Linked DNA regions of Homo sapiens. The protein of the gene in region 2 interacts with the protein of the main gene of each other region in a pairwise test. Each region holds a gene or a part of one and is shown on either strand. Other genes may lie near its edges.

The links. Proteins that work in one complex are often made in the same cells at the same time.
Region 1: the proteins of NXPE1 (region 2) and NEK7 interact in binary tests that used the Homo sapiens proteins (3 or more experiments, as listed by UniProt).
Region 3: the proteins of NXPE1 (region 2) and AHCYL1 interact in binary tests that used the Homo sapiens proteins (3 or more experiments, as listed by UniProt).

The regions. Positions count from the first base shown.
Region 1 is NC_000001.11:198,152,585-198,159,997, forward strand, and holds the start of NEK7 (serine/threonine-protein kinase Nek7), read left to right. Parts: upstream 1-4,413; 5' UTR 4,414-4,692; exon of another isoform or gene 4,693-4,822; intron 4,823-7,413. UniProt on the Homo sapiens protein: Protein kinase which plays an important role in mitotic cell cycle progression. Required for microtubule nucleation activity of the centrosome, robust mitotic spindle formation and cytokinesis.
Region 2 is NC_000011.10:114,556,852-114,564,091, reverse strand, and holds the start of NXPE1 (NXPE family member 1 isoform 1 precursor), read left to right. Parts: upstream 1-4,210; 5' UTR 4,211-4,294; exon of another isoform or gene 4,295-5,066; intron 5,067-7,240.
Region 3 is NC_000001.11:109,987,729-109,994,764, forward strand, and holds part of AHCYL1 (S-adenosylhomocysteine hydrolase-like protein 1), read left to right. Parts: intron 1-7,036. UniProt on the Homo sapiens protein: Multifaceted cellular regulator which coordinates several essential cellular functions including regulation of epithelial HCO3(-) and fluid secretion, mRNA processing and DNA replication.

The sequences.
Region 1 (7,413 bases), on a different chromosome or scaffold from region 2:
TTGTTGAGGAAATTAGGTTCTGCGAAATGGCTTCATGGTTTGGCTCCACATTAAGGATGAGGTGTACAAGAATGAAAAGGGAAATAATTTCTGAATATATTTTCTTCATTGCTGTGACTTATTACTTACTGCATATTGGCCCTTTGGCTTTTATACTATAAAAAAACATAAGTTCGGTTATATTCTGCTGACCAAAGGAAATCATGACATAAACTGCTAGTTGTACTGTTTCTTTCCTGTTTTGCAACCAATATAAAATACTACATTTCTCTACATTAAAAATATACATAGTGAATTTAAATGCTTCCTCAGTTTAATAACCACTATAAAAATAGCCAGGAAAAGCCACTGGTGGTAATGCCACTATTTTTAACCATGAACTGTATTCTCAAAATACCATAACTAGATAATTGGGACATAGGAGAGTTGTCTTTCTGTGATTTTGAATTCTAGGGGTTTGATGTGAGAATGAAATTTAGGCCGATTTTATTGTTTTAATGGGAAGTTCATCTGCATGATCTATTAACAATGAAATGCAAGAGGCCATTAAAGGTGAAAAAGTAACTTCCTACTATTTTTCATGGGTGTTTTCAAAGTAAGATAAAGATTTATTTTCTGACTTTGTATAGTGACCACAGCCAGGGCCAGAGAAAAGTGATCTCCCTTGAGTTGCTTGCAGTCTGCACTCTGACTTCCTCCTCTTGGCCCAGTTGAGTCCAGACATTTCAACAGCTTGACTAAGCCTCATCACCAGTTAGCTGCCAAATTCAGTGGCTGCCAATACCACTAGTAGCTTTTTAAATACACCTGTTGCCAGCACTATGTTTGAGTCAAGAAGGCTAGACCTTTCTGGTCTACCCCAGTGGCTAAGCTCTCTTTCAAAGGAGAATTATTTTTAGTATTACTTCATCATTTTTCCTTAAGAAAATGTTTTTCTAGCAAGCTTCTCTCCTTACAGAGAAATTGCATTTACACTGATCCCAGTACATAACATCTCGTCTGGGTTAGCCTAGGGAGAAAGAGTAGTTTCAATAATTGATATTACCTGTGGGGCCAGCAAGATATATGAATAACAAAACATAAAAACTTGGTGTAACTGAGAGGTTTCAAGTGTAATAATCAAAAACCACTTACAGCAAAGTTAATCTGATAGTTAATGGTATGTATTGCGTGGTAATTAGGTATAAACACTAAGTACTTCATATAAAGGACTATAATTAATGTGTTTCATGAAGCCAAACAAGCATTTTTGGAGCAAGCTTGGTGGGGAGATGAATAGAAAAGCAGTTAAAGCTAGATTCTGTTCTAAAGATCCTGGACCACAGATCCTCTTTGGCCAGGTTTTTCTGCGTTTCCATTAGCATTTGCTCACAGCCAGGAGGCCAGTGGCCAGGAACAACTTTCCCTATCCACCACAAAGCTGATAAAAAGCTAAAGAGAAAAAGTGTGGTGGATTCAGTTCTGACAACCTTCCAATCTTTGAAACACTGTATGACTATTTAGCTGTAGCTTAGCAGTACTTTAAGGTGAAGAAATAGGACATATCAGAGTATTTCAATACTTTGGGCACTATATAGCCACTGATAAGGATTCTTCCTCAACAGTCTTTTCAGCTAGTAGGACTTCATGAGCTCATTTTGATCCATTTGACTATGAGTCAGTGTTCTCAAGGTGTATGTGTTTTGCTTTTACCAATGGAATATTTGGTCATAGATAAATCTGTAGTTTATTAAAAAACAAAAAACACCAAACTGGCTGGGCACAGTGGCTCACACCACTTTGGGAGGCTGAGGTGGGCAGACCATTCGAGTTCATGAGTTCGAGGCCAGCCTGGCCAACATGGTGAAACCCTGTCTGCACTAAAAATACAAACATTAGCCAGGTGTGGCGGCACATGCCTGTAATCCCAGCTACTCAAGAGGTTGAGGCAGGAGAATCACTTGAACCTGGGAGGTGGAAGTTGCAGTGAGCTGAGATCACGCCACTGCACTCCAGCCTGGGTGACAGAGCGAGAGGCTGTCTCCAAAAAAACAAAAAACAAAAAACAAAAAAAAAACCCAAAACAAACAGAAAAAAACCTTACACATACGTCTGGTCTGAGGTTGACATGTCTTTACCCTAAGGATATCTGGTTATTTTTTTCCTGCAATGTGTGCCTGTGTATGACGCCAGTGACACTGTTTCTATTGACTGACAGATTTGATTTGGTGTGACCTGATAAAATGATCTGGTTCAAATGCCAATTTCATTGGCTTTGTTCTTGCCTCCTTTCTTACCTGACATTCAATACATCAGCAAATCTTGTTTGCTCTTAGAAATGGAATCTCACCATTTTTACCACCTGCACTCTGGTCTGTCATCAATGTATTTTACCTGGATCATTACAATAGTCTTCTAACATCTAGTTGCTCTTAGGCTCAATCTGTTCTCCACAGTGCAGCTCTTCTCTCCCAACCCAAATCAGATTTGGTCACTCCTCCAATGGCTCTCCTTTTCATTCAGAATAAATTTTAAAGGTTACAAGATTCTACAACTATACCCTTCTTGTACCCTACTCCCTCTTCTGATTTAGTCAGCTGCTTTCCCACCGCTCACTGAATTCTAGCCTACACTGACCTCCTGCCTATTTCTCAAACATGCCAAGCCCACTTCCACTTAGGGTCTTTGCATTTGCTGATCCTTCTGTGTAAAATATTCTAACCCTGGGTAGCCAAATGGCTAATTTCTCACTTCCTTAGTTCTCTGCTCAAATGTCAGAGAGGCATTCCCAGACAAACATATTTAAAATAGCATCCTCCCTCCCCATGTCTCCCTACCCTGCTTTATTTTTCTATGACTCACCATCTGGCATAGTAGGTATTTATTGGCTTTTTTTTTTTTTTGGCCTTTCCGACTACAATATAAGCTCTATGACAGCAGGCACTGTATATCTCGGTGAGCTGTTGTATCCTCATTCCTTAGAACATTGCCTAGCCCATTTATGAATATTTGTTGAGCCACATGAATCAAGGCCTCCTTTTGAGATCGTGAACGTTTTCATTTATTTATTTATTTTTTTGAGACGGATTTTCGCTCTTTCACCCACGCTGGAGTGAAGTAACGCGATCTCTGCTCACTGCAACCTCCTCCCCGCCTCGGGTTCAAGCGATTCTTTTGCCTCAGCCTCCCCAGTAGCTGGGATTATAGACTCCTGCCACCACGCTCGGCTAGTTTTTGTATTTTTAGTAGAGACAGGGTTTCGCCATGTTGGCCAGGCTGGTCTCGAACTCCTGACCTCAGGTGATCACCCCCCCCCCCACTTGGCCTCCCAAAATGCTAGGCTTACAGCCATGAGCCACTGCGCCCGGCCATTTTTCTTTTTAAAAATAAACTTTCCAGATCTTAATTTCATGGCTTTAACATTTTAAATGTTTGAGGTATAATCTACTCATTCTTGGCTCTAATCTTTTTGTCAGGGAAGTTAAACTAGTGAGAGACCTATGAACAACAGCAACAATTTAATGAGCACGTCTTATATGCCAAGCTTTGTGGTTAAGCACTTTGCTTTATCTCACTTAATTCTAACTATGGTCCTAGAGGTTGGTATTACAACTAATCTCCTTTTACAGAGAGTTACTGAGACTTGGAGAGGTTAAATAACTTGCAGCCAGGTCACAAAATTAATCACTGAGTTGAGACGACAATTAAGGTATGGCCGACTCCATACTGCCTCCTAGCCGTCTCCTCGAGTAGTTCATGCCCTGTTAACTTAAGTCGTGAAGCTGCTGGTGTCAAAGCATTCCTTTTGCAGTTTCGTGTACTAGGGTTCTGGGTGATTTTGCACATATTTATTTCAAAGATCCTCCGTACCACACCAGGGAGTTTACCTTCTGGAATGTTGTTGAAGCCCCTGTCCTCTATGCTGGGACACTTTCATGCAACGTTTGCTTAGCCAGACTCAGGAAAACGCCTTTTTTTTTTTTTCTCATTTCCCTGCACTCCACATTAAACACAGAGGTAGTTTAAATCACCTGGTAAAAGAAGATGGGATCACAAACGCTGTGGTCCAGAAGGGAACATCAGTAAGTCGGTTCACCGCTTGCAAGTGGGGGCACTTACATATAAATGAAGAAAAAACAAGTTCTTAAAAAGCAGCCGACCCTGGGTTCTTAAAAAGCAGCCGGGGAAGAGGGCTCAGGGGACCGGACGCGGTGCCCCGCACCACGCTAGGCCTGACAACCGGAAGAGAGGGGCCAGGAGGGGCTCCTCCAGAGCGACTTCGGCTCCAGTAGGGAAACCGCCGAGGCTCCCCCAGCTCCAGGGAGCGCCGGGGACGCAGGCGGGAAGCCTCCATCGGGCAGCCGGCCTGGACTCACGACGCGGGGTGGGGCCGGCGCCCGCCCCGCCCCTCTCCTCGGGGATGCCGGGATGTTTACACTCCTGACAGCGGCGGCAGCAGGAGGAGGATCGGGAGTCGCGGGAGGATGGGCCGCCGCTAGGCTCGCACTCCGGACGCGCCTCGCAGTGCGCAGGGTGGGTGCCCCGCGCCTGCAGCGTCCGCCGGGGCGGCGCGGCGGGAGGTGGCCGACAGGCTCCGGGCCTCGCAGCCTCAGCCCCCGGCCCAGCGCGCTTTCCGACGGCGGCGCCGCGCCGAGCCACCCGCCCGCCCAAGGTCTCTCGCGGGCGGGAGAACGGAAAACTCCCAACTTCCTGGTGAGTCGCTGCCCAGGGTTCAGGCGCCCGGACCGGGCAGCTCCTGCCGGGAGGGGCCGCCTGCGGGAGTCGGGCCGGGAGAGGGAGGTCGGGACCGCGCGGGGCGGCCTCCGGGATACCCTCGCTCGGGGTAGGTGGGGCGGGGCGCGCTGCGCTCGAGGCGGATGGGGGTTTCGGTCTTGTTCGTTGGCAGCGGTGGGAGGGGGCGGCAGGAAACTTCATACCTGGCCCCGGCTCTAGAGGCCCGAGGCCGCCAAGGGCGCCGCGGTAACTAAGAAACTCCGTGGCCACGGCGGCGGCGGCAACAGGTCTTTGGTTTCGGGACCCGAGGAACTTAAGCGAAGTCCCGCCTTCCGGCGGATGCTCATTGGCGACGTCGGTTATTTATCTCTCGCGGATTGGTGAAGTCCGTCTGTCAGGATTCGGCAGCAGCCCGACTTAGGAAAGTGAAGTGCGCTGGGAGAGAGTGGGTGGTGGGAGCCGGCAGATAGGGGAGAATCCGAAGTGGCTTCAGAAGTACAGGGAGCGTGAGAGGTCTGTCGGAGAATGAACTTGGGAGAGACTCGGGATTACAAAATGTCGGAGAGAGGGATTGCGAGGCAATAGCGAACATTGCTGGTGATGGTGGCAATGGAAAAGAAATTGAAAACTGAGGCCAAAGTCAGAGAAGGGTAGCCAAAGGAAAACAGAGAAAAGTGACAAGACCGTATGACCGCAGAACAGTGTAAGGAAGCGAGCACAACCTAGAGGATGCTGCCTTGAGAGCTAAAGAACTTCTGTTGCCTCTGTTACACTGTAGGCCTTCACTCCTAAAACCGCAGCATCCTCTATTTAGTCTTGCACTGGGAGCGTACTGGGGTCGCGGAGAGATGATGTATCGTGTTCTCACCTTGCTGTAGTCCTCACTGGGGAGAAATGCTAAAAAATATACTTAGTTTACAGTAAGATACATGTTACTGTCCTTGCGCAATTCTGGTGACTGAACTGAAAATCAGAAATACACAGAAATAAAATGATTATTCTCCTTTGAGGTTACTGAGCTCAAGGATGCAATTGAAAACACCACATTTCCATAGTTTGTAGAGCCTAATGTACCCATCATAATGGGAACCACTGTTTCTAGTTCCTCCTCCAAGGAATTTACAGTTTCAAGGCTATGCACACTCCCTCCAGGCGACAGCAGTATGTCTTGTCAGGTTGCATTAGAGAATTAAAGTACAGAGTATGTGTATTATAAATATGTTCTGTTCAGGACCTTGAGCTGCTGGTGGTGTGGTCGAAGAATGGCATAGTCCTTGCACTCAAAAGCTACAGTATGTTTGGGACAACCGGTCAAACCCTGAAAACGGTGAACAGTAAAACAGGAGATACAGTTAACCCTCTAATGCTTTGTGGCAACTCTTGTTGAATGGCCGCTGAGTATTCTTGGTTTGTAACACTTGGTGATGGCCAAGTGCTCTTGAAACAGCTAACTTAAAATCTCAGCAGTTATTTTATTTCCAGAGGAAGGAATTCTCTCTCCCTCGGCGAGATCCAGTCCACAGCTTGCTTCACTCTTAGAACAGCGGCATCCTCTATTTGGTCTCGCACGGGGAACTTGCTGGGGTAGGGGAGAGGTGTTAGAGCTTTGAAAAAGCTTTGCCTCTCGGAGGAGTCAAAGGGGCAGTAACTGTATGGGGTGAGAGGAAGGCCTGCGAAATAAAAAGGCAAAGGAACCGTTTGAGGAGGCTAGTTGCCTTCTCGGGGCCGGTGTGTGTGCGGGGGTAGTGTTAAGGGGGAGGAAGGAGCCCGGGAGCCCGGAGGACCCTCCCGGAGGTGCGGGCCTGAAATTCCGCTGGGTGCCGGGAGGCTCCGCCCTCCGGAGTACTGACGGCCTTCGCAGCCAATGCGCAGCCAGGACCTCGCGTTCGGGAGGGCGGGTACTTCCTACTCCAGCCCTGGGCTCGGAGAAGGCCGCGTTAGTTCTTTTTCTAGGGATGTCTGCGGAAGGGGCGCCAGGCTGAGGGCCAGCCTGGAGAAAGAAAGAAAGGAAGGAAGGAAGGAAGGAGGAGGGGGGCTTCAGTTTTCCCTGAGCCATCCTAGGTGTCCCGTTTCGTGATTCAGCTGCACCTAGAACTTAACTACTACTGAAAGTTTATAGTAGATTAGAAGCGAAGTTGGTCAGCAGACTAAATATAGTCCATGTGACTGAGGCGGGTTTTACTCTGAAATTACCTGAAAATGAAAACCACTAAATGTCAGAATCTAAATCGTTAGGCGTTTTCACAACTTCTTGGGAATCTTTCCATGGTTAAAAATCTTACCAATTTAACAAGACTAACTTTATTTCTAAGCGTACAGACTCATTTTATAGTCTGAACTAGTATTTAGGTTTATTTATTTAGATAATACATGTAGCACCCACCATTGCTTTCCCCCTTTCATATTTTCCTGTCTGGACAATTTCGAGTTCATTTCCATCCCAGTAAAACAGCACTTACCCAAAGAATGAGGAAAGCACATATGGTATGATGGCAGTGTACTAGTAGAGGAGGGGAGATTTGATGCCTCTATAGCTAACATACCTGATTAATAAATTTAAAAAAAAATTGCATCGTAATGACCAGAAGTCCAGTGCAGTTACAGTTTGTGTAAATAAGTACTTAATCTCATAAGGACCTCATGCCCCAAATCTTTCCTGGTGCTTGCAGTTGATAGTTTTGGGCTCTGACTTACTGTAAA
Region 2 (7,240 bases):
CACATTTTCTTTATCCACTCATTGATTGATGGGCATTTGGGCTGGTTCCATATTTTTGCAACTGCTAATTGTGCTGCCATAAACATGTGTGTGCCAGTGTCTTTTCTCATATAATGACTTCTTTTCCTCTGGGTAGATACCCAGTAGTGGTATATCTACTTTTAGTTCTTTAAGGAATCTCCATACTGTTTTCCACAATGGTTGTACTAGTTTACATTCCCACCAGCAGTGTAAAAGTGTTCCCTTTTCACTACATCCACACCAACATCTATTATTTTTTATTTTTTAAATTATGACCATTCTTTCAGGGGTAAGGTGGTTTGCACTGTGGTTTCGATTTGTATTTCCCTGATAATTAGTGATGTTGAGCATTTTTCAATATGTTTGTTGGCCATTCCTAAATCTTCTTTTGAGAATTGTCTATTCATGTCCTTAGCCCACTTTTTGATAGACTGTTTGTTTTTTTCTTGCTGATTCGTTTGAGTTCCTTGTAGATTCTGGATATTAGTCCTTTGTCAGATGCATAGTTAGTGAAAATTTTCTCCCACTCTGTGGGTTGTCTGTTAACTCTGCTGATTATTTCCTTTGCTGTGCAGAAGCTTTTTAGGAGTTAATTAAAATAATCCCAAACTTTAGAGATAAGCGTCCACACGTGGCATCCCAGTTATTTTCAAGTTTGCAACTGCAGGCATGTAATAAATGACTGGAAGTAAATAAGAAAATGAATGAATCAATAAGTAAATTCCCTATATGACTCATATGAGGAGAAAGTAAAATTTCAGAAAAGCTTCCTGAGAGATAAAAAGAGAGATGAGGGATTAGTGACAGAAAATATGACTCACCCTCTTATTTGCCCTCATCTTTATTGCCTCTTGTACTGAACATCTCTTGCTGAATTGTGACTAATATTCCTACTTCCAGAAAGAGGGCCCCTCTTTTCCTGGAGAACTGTACCTTCCCCACTTTATAGCATGCTACTGAGACTCTGAGACTCTCAATCATGTGATTTTTGCCTATTTTTGGTGCCTACTGGTTCATCAAAACACTCTTCCCCCAAACCCTTCATAAGTGATTGGTACTAGCACAGTTGATTAGAGTTGTTGGTTTTTTTCTGTGACTTAATATAAATTCTGAAAAGAAATGGGTCTCTCTCATTCTGAGATCTTGAACACCAACGACCATGTATGGCTTAAGCATGTTAGGACTATCTTGCTGCATTATCTTGAGAGCAAGCATCTCTAAGAAAATAGGACAGGAGAGCCTACAGGCTTAGAGAGAAGCTTGATTACATTGTTTGAACCACAGATCGAGCCTTATCTGAAGCTAGATTAATTCCTAAGACTTCCCACTCATATGAGTCATTAAGTATACTTTTTCCTTTAGCTTGTGTGATTGGATACAACGACTGAAAGAGATAATTTACTTCTGTAAAGTCAACTTGACTCTGGATAGTAATAAATAAGAGAGATTACAGATGCAGTTGTGAAAGTTGTTACAGAGTCTAGGAAAATGGCATAATTAAATAGTCCCAGGATTTATGTTTGATATCAAACAGAACTTGTTGGATATCCTGATGAGAAATATGTAAAATAATAGTATTTCTGTCTTTTCCTATGATTCCTACTGAAATCAGTAAAGGTGGACACAGAGTTTAACAGAGACAGCCATGAGGTATGACCTCTCCACATATCATATGGAAGCACTGAGAATGTGTGCAAGGGCTGGGAAGACAGAGCAGTGCTGTGCATAATCCCCAAGAGGGAAGAAGAGAGCATGGACTCTCAGAAGACTGGATATTGGCACTCAGCACCAGGAAATATTTCTAACCACTCTCCCAGAAGAAAATGCAATAAATAAACCCAACATTTACAGGGAGGCTAGCAGAAAATTTCAAATGCAAAGATGAACACATAACCAAAAATTACCAATCATTTGAAAGAGACTAACACTTGAAAGAGAGGCATAAAGCACAATAATCAGAAGAAATTGACATGCCAAGAAAACAAAGTTAAAAGGACAGTTGATACAAGAATTTAGAATAAGTGTGTTTAATTACCAGACTGATGTGAGAGGATATTGCAGCCATACTTAGAGTTAACTAGATATTTGTTAAATTTAAAATATGATACGTGAAATAAAGAAAAACTTGAGGGACACACTAAAGTTCAAAATGAAAACAATAAACTGGAGAAATAAAATGTTAACTCAAGAATTCTTGCAGAATACAGAATAAAAGGAAAGTGTGATCAAAATTATGAAAGAAAAGTTAACAGATATTAGATCTCAGGTCTAATGGGCCATTAAAAGCGCCAAACATGATGAAGATAAAAAGATCTGCATAAAATTTCATAATACCAAGGATGAAGAGAAAAATGCTACAAAGATTCACAATTATACTAACTTTGACATCAGACATTTCATAAATGACATTGGATGCATGAAGAGAATGAAACAGTATCCTCAAGGCTAAGAAGAAAAATATTTTTCACCTAATTCTATAGCAAGTAAATTTATCATCTATTTAGGAAGAAAAAATATGTACTCAGTCTAATACTGGTCCCCTCTGAAAGAGCTACCAAAGACTTTACAAGATAAGAAACAAATTGAGTAGTGAGGAGTAGGTTTTAGAAACAATATTGGTTAAAGAAACCAAGGTAACAAACAATATTGCCTAATTGTGAGTGAGGCAATATGTTCATATGAACTGTTGACACATGCAATAACTTGGATGGACATCGTGGACGTTACGCTGAGTGGGAGAAAAAAGCCAATCTCAAAATTTACTCCCATGCATAAATAGTAGTAGTTGGGGTGGTGATAGTAGTAGTTGCTAATTATTTAGTGCTTAAACTAAGTGTCAGAAACTGTTTTTAAATGTTGTACATGTATTAATTCATTTAATCCTATGAGTACTTAGCACAGTACTAATAATACTTGTGATCTTCAAAACTAAATCTTACAAATTGGCACAGGGTCTGGGCATCCAGGCTTAGAAAGAGAGATGAAGTTAGATTTATGTTACAGAGCTGAAGTAACAGTCACATGACAAATATGAAGGTTCCAGAGGGAAGGGCATGAGGCATGAGAGAAAGGTCTCCAATATGTAGTCAGTAAAATATTATTCAGCACTAAAGAAATAAGCTATCAAGCCACAAAAAGACAGAGAAACTGAAATCCGTATCGCTAAGAGAAAAGCCAATCTGGGACAGCTACACACTGTATGATTGCAGCTATGTGACATTCTGTAAAAGTCAAAACCATGGAGACAGTAAGAAAACCAGTGGTGACCAGGGGTTAGAGGGGAAAGAAGGATTAATAGGCCTAATTATTCATATACACCCATATATTCCCTTTCATGTTACAGGCATTTGGCATAGCAGAAGTTACAGCAACATTTACTGTATTGGTGAATTAAATAATGTTTATGATAATGACGAGTTAATGAACCATATCCCCTTTCCCTAACTCAGAGCAAATAGTCCTTCCCCATTTATTAGATATCCTTTTCAAACCGATAAAAGATCCAGCTGGGAAAAGTGGCTCATGCCTGTAATCCCAGCACTTTGGGTGGCCGAGGAAGACAGACCACTTGAGCCCAGGAGTTCAAGACCAGCCTGGGCAACATGGTAAGACCCCATCTCTACAAAATACAAATTAAAAATATTAGCCAGGTGTGGCAGCATGCACCTGTAGCCCCTAGGCCCAAGGCAGAAGGATGGCTTGGGCCCAGGAGTTCGAGGTTGCAGTGAGCTATGATCACGCCACTGCACTCCAGCCTGGGCAACAGAGCAAAACCTTGTCCAAAAAAAAAAAAAAAAGAAAAAAAAAGAATTCTCAATCACCCACCAGTTCTCTGCATGGTGTCCACTGACAATTTGTTCTCTTGTTTGGAGTTGTCGTGAGACTTCAGATTTTCTGAGGAAAGCCTATCCATAGAGTCACTTGGGGTATTTTTACACTATGACTTCAAGGACCACAGCTGTTTCAGAACTAAGAGGTTTTCCATTCCCAAGGGTCACCAGTAACATGGAGAGAGAAGGAATCTCAAAGAATACCCGAGTAACACCCAGTTAACAGAGGCTGTGGAATTATCTAATTGTCAGTTAATTGTACTACTGTTTATTGCCTCTTCAAATCTCCACCCCAAGATAAGCCAATTTACGAGGAAAACAGACTGATGAAAATAAATGTGTTCACAGACAAGGAACAAAAACATTTTACACAGCCACAAGAGCCAGTTAAGAACTCACAGGTACTTTTCCAGCCACCCAGATAGGAGAGATCATTAAAACAGGTGAGTAAGCAAAACTATGGAGACTGCCTTTCTCTATTTCTAATCTTGCCAGTGGTCAGTGGAGGGCAGGGAAGAACAAAGCAAAAGAAATTAGAAAGACTGTGTCTGCTGAGGGGTTCTCTCAAGTCAGAGAAAGATAAGAAAAGGGAGAAAGCTCAGAAGAAAGTGTGGGAAACAAAAAAAAAAACTGATAGTGAGAGCCTCTCTTACTGACAAGGATAGGCTGGTTTTGACGGTGAGACAGCATCAAGATAAAATATTTCTCTAATAACCAACCAGCAAAAGTCCCCAGTGCTTTGTGGGAAGCAAGCATGGATACAGTCACTCAACCTAACATCTAGTTGGAGAGAGGAAGAAGGACATCAAAAATACCTGTTTACAACTGATATTTCTTTGCCTTGTTTTATGTATGACATTGTTTGGGTGGAAAATGTATGAATATGTCACAGGAATTCAAAATACGGGAGAGATCGTTGTGGTCTAGAGTTATGCTGGAAAGTTTCCTGTAGAGATTGCCCCTGAGCTGGGGATTCACTGACTATAGAGTCTAGATTGGTGCAGGGGCAGGCCACCCCAGGTGGGCAGTAGGATGAGTCATAAACAAAGCCAGAAAAGCAGGAAGGATTCTTTTTTAATTTTTGTCTTTGAGTATGTGTGTATCCATGTATTGTGCTTTGTATGTATATTTTTAATTTACATAAAAATGTGATAAAGATTTATGTTTATTTCTTTCTTCACTTAGAGCTGTTTTTAAGAGCTCTTCATATTACAGGTAAATCTAGTGAGTTGTATCTAACTGTTGGATAGTATCCCACAATACACATCCACTACATGTTTCTTAACCATTTCATAGTAATACATATTAAAGTCTATTTAATTCCCTACAATTACAGCTATACATATAATCAACTGAAAACAAACTTTGTATGTGATTCTTTATGGACCTGACTGAGAAGTCCTCTGTGATGTATCCAGAATGAATTGCTTGGACATAGGGCATAGATAAACACAAACTAACAGAAATATTGCCATTCTGCTTTCAAAACGATCATGTTAATTTGTACTCTTACATAGCACAGCAGAGTTATGTATAAAGATCCAATCTATATTGTGACCTAGTTCAGCTTAAGTCCATAACAGGAGGATTGTTTAGCTTTAGAAAATATACGAATGTAATACATCACATTTAAACATAAAAGTTTAAAAATTCATATAATTACCTCAATGAATCAGAAAAGGCCTTTGTCAATAACTCAACTTCCATTAGTAATAGAAACACTTCACAAACTTTCTTAAAAGAGAACTTCCTCAATCTAATAGAAGGCATTAAGAAAAGCAAATATCACAAATCCAACATCATATATTTAATTACACATAGTAAAATGTTGAAACTAACTATGAAAACAAGGCAAACGTACCCAATATGGCCACTTCTAATCATCTTTGTTCTCTATGTGTGCCTATATAAAAGCACTATTAAAATAAAGCACTTGCATTTCTACACATCAGCCACAGATATTTGTTTGGAAAATGAAATAAAAAGAAAAACATATAGAATGTGCATATATATGGATATATATATACACACACACATAAACACATATACATAGATGTGTGTATAGTTTATATTTATAATTATAAATAAAATTTATGTTTCCCAAAATAGTAGACTTGCTTATAGTCTCCTTTTGAGAGCAACTAGAAAAGCTAGAGGATGTTATATTTGATCTGTTAAGCGTCAGAGAGCAACTGGGGCAGTGAGGGGTTGAGAGATCTAGATTCTAGAGAGAAAGCAAGAGAGGAACAAAGGGCAGTTAGGGAAATAGAAGGAAAATGAGGTAACATATTCAAAGTGCTGATGCTTTTAACCACCAAAAACAAAAATAAATAAATAACACTTGTCAATCTAGAATTGTATAGCCCGCAAAAGAAACCCTCAAAATGAAAGCAAAATAAGATTTTTTAAAATGTAACCTTGAGAATTTGTCACTAGAAGATGTCTTACAGAATATTAAAGATAGTTCTTGAAGCAGAAGATAAATTCTCCCAAATGACAGTAGAGAACGGCAAAGAAGAATGAAAAAGAAGGAAACTAAATGTACAAATATAAATGAACAAGGATTTTATATATATATATATATATATATATATATATATATATATGTATTATATATAATATATTGTGGTGTTTTAAATATTCCTAGAATTAAACCAGTCAGTGGTGAGTGCCTATAGTCCCAGCTACATGGGAGGCTAAGGTAGAAGGATCACTTGAGCCCAGTAGTTCCAGTCCAACCTAGGCAGCATATTTCTTTTCCATCTCTAAAAGAAATAAAATAAATATTTCTAGAACTGAAATGCCTGACTATAGCAAGAAAATGTGAAAGAGTTAAATGTAAATGGAGTACAGTTTTCTAAGGTCCCTCATTTCCTAATAATTAGTAAAAGTACCAATTTATATTAGACTTCATTAAGTCAAAGATGCATATTGAAATTTCCAAAATAGAGTAGAAATTATTAAAGTAGTTTTTATAACAAGCTAAATGAGAATGGAAATAGAATAATTTTAGAGTTTTTGACTAATACACAAGAGGTCAAAAAGGGGGCCGGGCACGGTAGCTCATGCCTGTAATCCCAGAACTTTGGGAGGCTGAGGCACGCAGATTACTTGAGGTCAGGAATTCGAGACCAGCCTGGCCAACATGGTGAAACCCCGTCTCTACTAAAACTACAAAAAATTGGCCAGGTGTGGTGGCTCACGCCTGTAATCCCAGCTACTCAGGAGGCTGAGGCACTATAATTGCTTGAACCCAGGAGACAGAGGTTGCAGTGAGCCAAGATAGTGCCACTGCACTCCAACTTGGGCAACAGAGTGAGACTCTGTCTCAAAAAAAAAAAAAAGTCAAAAAGGGAGAAAATGGAATAGAAATAGAGAAGGTGGGACAA
Region 3 (7,036 bases), on a different chromosome or scaffold from region 2:
ATGCCAAGGTCTATCACACTGCTATGAACAAAATAGGACTTGTTGGTTTGATTGAAGATTTGAGATGTCTGGGTGTCGAGAAGTCAACTAAAGGGATATGACCTTGAGCAAATTAATTAGCTTTTGTACCTGCATCTCCTCATCTGCCAAATAAGTGCCTATTTTTTTTGGAACAGGTGGAGATAGGGGCATGTTGGGGAGTTAAGATAGCAGTGTAATTTTTTAAAAGTCTATTCGTATATTTATATTCTTTCTTCAATGGGCATTTGAAGTGGCTTATAACACAGAACATATATGTGATATAAAAGGAAGTAAAAACTATAGAAAGAATGAAAAAAATATTGTTAACCTCGAGGGCTAAGATAGTTGATGAGGTTGATCACATGCAACTTGAAACTTTTAGCAGCCAGAGGATGAAAAGAATCATAGTTACAGTCTCCTTAGCAGGCATGGGAAATAATACATGTCAATTCCTCAAGGGGACGACTTTTCCTGACACAGAGTTCTAAAATAATTTTTCACGGGAATGTCTTAATAGCTGTAGTGTAATTCACATTGTAAGGCTTGTTCACGACTGTCACTGGTGATTTCAGATGGTATGGCTAGGAAAATTTGAGGTAAGAAAAGGAATCCTTGAGTTTTAAGAGTTAAGTGTACCACAACTGAAGAAGATCCTTGTTTAATGTTGGCAGTTATCGGTCAAACCAAGTAAGTAATCTAGTTCCCCATAACCACTGGTTATTTATCCCTCTTTTGCTGCTACTTTGTGTAACAGGAGTGGTAACTGTCCTTGGACCTTTGGAAATTGACACTGTGTCAAGTTGATTCTTTTTTCATAGTGTAAACCCAAATCTCCAACTTGTTGGAGAGCTCTTACAATAAGCATGTTTCTCCGGAAGGCCTTTCAGAACATTTGCTGTTCTCTGAACTTCTGAACATTAAAGGCACTCTCCAGAGTGATCCATTAAACATTTTGACCTAGGATCTGTGGAGTCAGACCCATCAGCAAAATGTGGGGAAGGAGAAGAGCACAGAAGAAACTACTTTTGTTTATAGGATATTCTTTATTTGAATGAAGCTATGTGCCACTAATTCATCAAAAGGGTCAGCTGAGACTTAGGAAGCACACCAAGTAGAGCCCCAATGGGTACAGCTTGGGTGTTAACCCGATAGGTAAAATCCAGGTTTCTCCTTTTGTCATCAGAGTTATCTTACGGTTAATTTTTGGTGCAGTTGTATAGAATTTACGCCAGGACTTGTCAGAATCACTGAAAGGAGATTTCATAGGTTGGCATTTCCTATCTTCACATCATTAGTATCTCTTGATTCTCCTTAGAGTGGCTGCTGTTGTAGTAGCAGTCTTTAAAACAGGAGTTGGGGTGTAAGAAGATCCTCTTTTTAAGATTTCTCCGCAGGTATTGATTACATCTCTTTTTCTTGTTTGGTTTAGTTAGTTACACTCTAGTTTCCAAATTACTTTGTTCCAAGTTTCTTTAGACATTTAGCTTGTAACAGAAATCTGTTAGAAGATTTCTAGATCAGTAGTTGTCTAGATCTTTTGCTGCCAAGGTTACAAATGTATACCTTTTCTTTTATCAGGAGTGTGTCATTTGGATCCAGAGTGTTTTACCCAATATAATATTCTTTTTTAAAATTTATTTTTATTTTTTATAGAGATGGGGAAATCCCTGTGTTGCCCAGGCTTGTCTTGAACTCCTGGGCTCAAGCGATCTTCCCACCTCAGCCTCCCGAAGTGCTGGGATTACAGGCAAGAGCCACCACGCCCACCCCAATATAGTATTCTTGGAAAGTTGTCTATAAAGGATATTTTGATACATGGAATCATGCAGGTCTTTAGTTGCCTGTGACTCCTAGCAAGTGTACTCTGCCACTCCGAGTAGTTAATGATCTGTAAATAAGCACTTTAATGCCCTCTTGGGGTTGTTTTAAAGGAACTGGCGAATAAAGGAGAATCATTTATACGTACCTGTTTCTCAAGTTTGGGAATGTGAGTATTGCATTTTTATAAAGAATGTCAACCCTGATTATACTGGATACATTTTATTATAATTTAGAACTGAATAGTAATTCAGAACACATGCTAATGAGGTGCGTCAGAAGCATTCCTGTCATGTGAAGGGCAACCTACGTGCATAGACCAGAATTTTTTCTAGCCTGAAATCTGAGAATCCCCAGTTGAAGACAAATTCTTACCACAAATTTTCCTTTTGATTATTGTCAATACTATCAGTGCCTATTGTGTAGTAAGCAGTTAATAAAAATTCACACAGAATTGCAGTTGCCTTTCCTTTTCTGATTCCATATTTTCCTTTGACTCACTCAAGTAGTTCTTTTGTCCCACTGTTGCTTGGCTGTTACATAAGACGCCTTTAACTTCCCGTTTCTGTTCCTAAAACTGTGAGTAGTAGTACAACATAAGGTAAGCACTGATTTTTGGAGTCAGTTTTACCTTTAGTCTCTACCATCTAATAGTTGTGGGACATTCAACAAGTGACGTCCTTTTCTCATCTGTAAAATGGGGAACAATGATAGTGCTATCTATATACATGGTTGAGAGGGTTAGCATTTAGTAAATAGTAATTAGTGGGGTTTTTTTGTACCTAGAGTGACCATATATCCTGGTTTGCCTGGCGCAATTCTGGTTTATACCTGTTATCCTAGCATGCAGTCCAAGGAGTGCCTCCGTAGCTCTGAAAGTTACCCTGGTTTATGTGGCCACCCTATTTATAACTCTCTGGATGATGCAACATGATAGTGCAAATGAGAGCCTAATTTTGAAATGTTAAAGAGCCAAAACAAAGAAGTTTCTATTGGAATGTCTTTTCAATAAGAAAATTTTTTTCTGACAAAAATGTTATTTTATATAGAGCTTACAGCTACTGAACCCCAAAACATTTTGTTAACTACAGGGGTGGGGTGTGTAGACAGAGATCTTAGAGCTTTTGATGGAGTTGAGATGTCCTCTACCTTACCATTCCCCATTCATCCCCCGTAATACATAATGCACTCATAGAATGTGGGTATTTGTCAGACACTGGGCCAGTCTCAGTCCAGGAGTTTATTTCCTTAAACTTCAGGTGTTTGGGGTTTTCCCAAACTAGAATCCTTGAATTACATGAAATAATTGCAAAGACTTCTGAACTGTGACTTTATCATTTTAGGTATGTACTCCAGCACCCCCGCCCCCATCCCTGCAGGTACTGTTTTCTCATTGCTCTTAACAGCCTGCTTCTAATTATGTATAACTGATTTTCTCCTGTAGAAATGTGTGGCCTTTGCTGCATGCCACTCATAGAACTAGAGTGGAGCATCCATGCCTTTGTTGAGAGACTCAGACTGCTTTCATTTTTGTTTCTATCTCTGTTTAATTTTTCTAAAGGATTTAGCCTGGTGCCTTAATCTCAGAATGTAGATAATGATGGATACTGCTTATCAGTATACATTGGGGGGCTTAATCATTCACTACCCAAATGGAACACAAAGTAAAAAGTTTAATGAACTATTGGTAAAAGGTAGTATTTGGAAATCTGGGGTAGAGATTGGAAAAGTACTTTTGAGAACCACAGGTACAAGACTCTCCAAGCATGCTCCTGCTTCTTACCATAAAAGCCCCAACGCCTCCGCTGATGTGCCTGTGTACTTAACCTGTGGGGCTTAATGGGCTTAACATGTTCTTCTCTACCAGCCCAAGCCAGTTCACTTGTTTTAAAGTGGACAGCCTGTACTCAGTTGTGTGATGGAAATGGGGCATATTAAACAGGAGGGGTCTGGGACTGCTCTCTGTTCCATGCTGTTCATCTTGGACCTGCCTCAGGCTTACTTCTTCACAATTTGAGGAACTGCTCAGCAAGAGCACACCCTATTGTTGACATGTTTTTCTTTTCTCTCCGGAACCTGCGAGTGTACGATGGCATTAGTGGAATCCCTCTGAGCCTGTGTGCCAAGGAAAATGCTAATGTGCTGATCCACAATGATGTGTGGCTCAGTGTGAACTACGTAGTAAATTTGTGAGTGACAGAGTAAAGGGGCAAGAGGCTGGAGGAGATGAGTATAACCATCTTTCATTCACTTAGACTTCCTGAATGAAGCCGTTCATACTGAGTTTTGAGCAATGAGAGGATTTTGGAAGTTCTGTTTTTAATAAATGGCTCCAACTCTTCTAGTACTTACTAATTGTATTAAGGTGAACCTTTGGGACATAGGTTTCCATATGCTTAATGGGAAATACTTTGTCCCTTTTCCCCCAAGACTGGCTTGACCTCACGTCAAGACCTCACGTCAAAGCTTTTGGGCCATGACCTGTTTCCTTTGTGGTTCCAGAAATCTGGGGGCGGGGGGAAGAAAAGAGAGAGACCTACCATAAAAGTTAATAGGACAGGCTGGGCCCAGTGGCTCACGCCTGTAATCCCAGCACTTTGGGAGGCCGAGGCAGGAGGATCACAAGGTCAGGAGATCGAGACCATCATGGCCAACATGGTGAAACCCCATCTCTACTAAAAACACAAAAAAAATTAGCTGGGTGTGGCAGCACACACCTGTAGTCCCAGCTACCCGGGAGGCTGAGGCAGGAGAATCGCTTGAACCCAGGAGGTGGAGGTTGCAGTGAGCCAAGATCGCACCACTGTACTCCAGCCTGGCAACAGAGCAAGACTCCGTCTCAAAAAAAAAAAAAAAAAAAAAAGTTAAAGGACAGAGATTCTGATCTGCCCTCTTTGACCAGACCCACCCCTTCTCCTTTCTCAAAGACTTTAAGGAGAAGACTTCAGGTTCTCATGACTGTTAGCTTTATTTTGGGGATGTAGAAAATAGAGATTCACTTTGAATTTTCAAAATGCACATCCCCATCTTTGTTTCTAATTTTAGAAGAGAGGTCAGTAAGTAGACAGATTTGTGTAGAAGATAGAGAATTGGAATATGCTTCTCTTTTGCCTATTTGAGGGAATGCTCTTGAGAATCACTGGATTAGAGACTGTAGAACAATGGTTCTTACTCTTTGAGTCAGAGGTCCTTTTAAGAGTTTAATGAAAATCCTGGTTCTTTCCTCAGGAAAATTCAGGAGCACAAAAATATGCGTATTCTGTTAGAGGATTTATGGGACTTCTGAAACTCATGGATCCTGGGTTTTAAAGTCCTGATGTGGAAGGCCAGGCCTCCAAGCCACAGCATCTCTTTTCATTACAAGTCCACAAACTGCTAAGAGATTTAAGTTTCCAGCCTGCAGTTTGTCCTTATGGCTTGGAACAAAGCTGAGGTTGTTGGCATTGTCAGCTCCCTCTTTGGGATGCTCCTCAGCTTCCCAAAAGACTCATTATAAGTGCCTTGAGAGTTCAGCTCAGGAACTTAACACACATTCGAACCGGCATTTCGGCCACTTTGGGGGAATTTTTGGTATTATCTCAACTCTACTGCTCTTCATATGAAATGCAGATGCCCCTGAAGCTCCAGAGCTGATTCCGTAGGAGTGTTTGAAATAGTAGCTCACATAGTAGATTATCAAAACTAAACAAAATAATTTGCTTCTGTATGTCTCTCAAAAATAGGTTGGATTTCAATGTAGTACTTCTCAAACTATTATATTTTAAGGACTGACCTGATATTTGAATTTTACTCATCATTTGACTTTTCTAGATGGAATATGTTGAGGGCAAAGACCGTATCTCACACATATTTATATAGTACCTGGCACATAATACTGTCAATAAATGCTTATTGAATAAAATAATGTGAGATAATCATTCCTTGGAGAAAGTAAGTTGGACTTATGTGGTGGCTTTGACTCACTTTCCCTTTCAGTTGGCTGGGGTGATTTTTCTAACTTAGAGCCCTCTCACATAGGTATAAGGAAGTACCAAGAACTGCAGGTGAGAAATTGATGAGAATTTCCAACTTAATAGATCCCTTTATAAAGCCAGAAATAGGAGGTCAGGGAGAAGACATCTGAATATATGCCTCCAGCTTCTTAGCCCAGTGGCAGTGGGCATAGGGATATCCTTAGACAATAATGGGGAAGGTAACTTGAATTTCTCACCATTGAAACAACTTTTAAACCCTTAGCATTAGGGAGACTCTGTCCAAAGTTGAAACTGGTATCCTGGTTTATACATGCTCTTGATTTAAAGAACAGGGAGGCTTTCACATAGGGTATTTGAGGTTTGGGGATTAGCGATGAGTTGAATAGTTTGATTTTGGAAAGTACATTGGAACTCTGAAAGTAATAAACAACAGCTCCGTCCGGCAGTGATGAGCAAACTTCTGGTTCTTACTCTGCAACCCTGGCTGCCCCTTCTGAGTCAAAGGCTGAGTTTGATGCTCAAAAGCTATACATGCCCTTCTCTCTTTGAAACACACCTTCTTTAGAATTACAGTCTTCTGGGAACTGGGCCAATGCTTATCCTAGCCAGAAGCTCAGGCTCTAGTTGGCACTACATTTTGTGTGTTCTGTTTCACTTCAAGTGTATAACTTAGGCAAGATTCAGGGGAAAAGGAGACCTTCAGAATTTTGCTATTTTGTGTTGTTTGTTTGTTTGTTTGAGATGGATTTTTGCTCTTGTCGCCCAGGCTGGAGTGTGATGGCACGATCTCGGCTCACTGCAATCTCCACCTCCCGGGTTCAAACAGTTCTCCTGCCTCAGCCTCCCAAGTAGCTGGGATTACAGGCATGTGCCACCACACCTGGCTAAATTTTTTTTGGTGTTTTTTTTGTTTTTGTTTTTGTTTTTAGTAGAGATGGGATTTCATCATGTTGGTTAGGGTGGTCTCGAACTCCTGACCTCAGGTGATCCACCCGCCATGGCCTCCCAAAGTGTTGGGATTACAGGCATGAGCCACTGCACCCGGCAAATTTTGCTATTTTGGAAGTTGAAATAGGTGCTTCCTAGAGATAGCAGATGTATCCAGTTGCTTTGGTAACTAATTCAGTTTCTTATGGGTGGCCAGGTGGTATCCCACTTATTATTCAATACTTGAGGGTTCAGTGCCCAGCTTCTGAGCACCAGCTTTCTTAGCAAGCAAGACA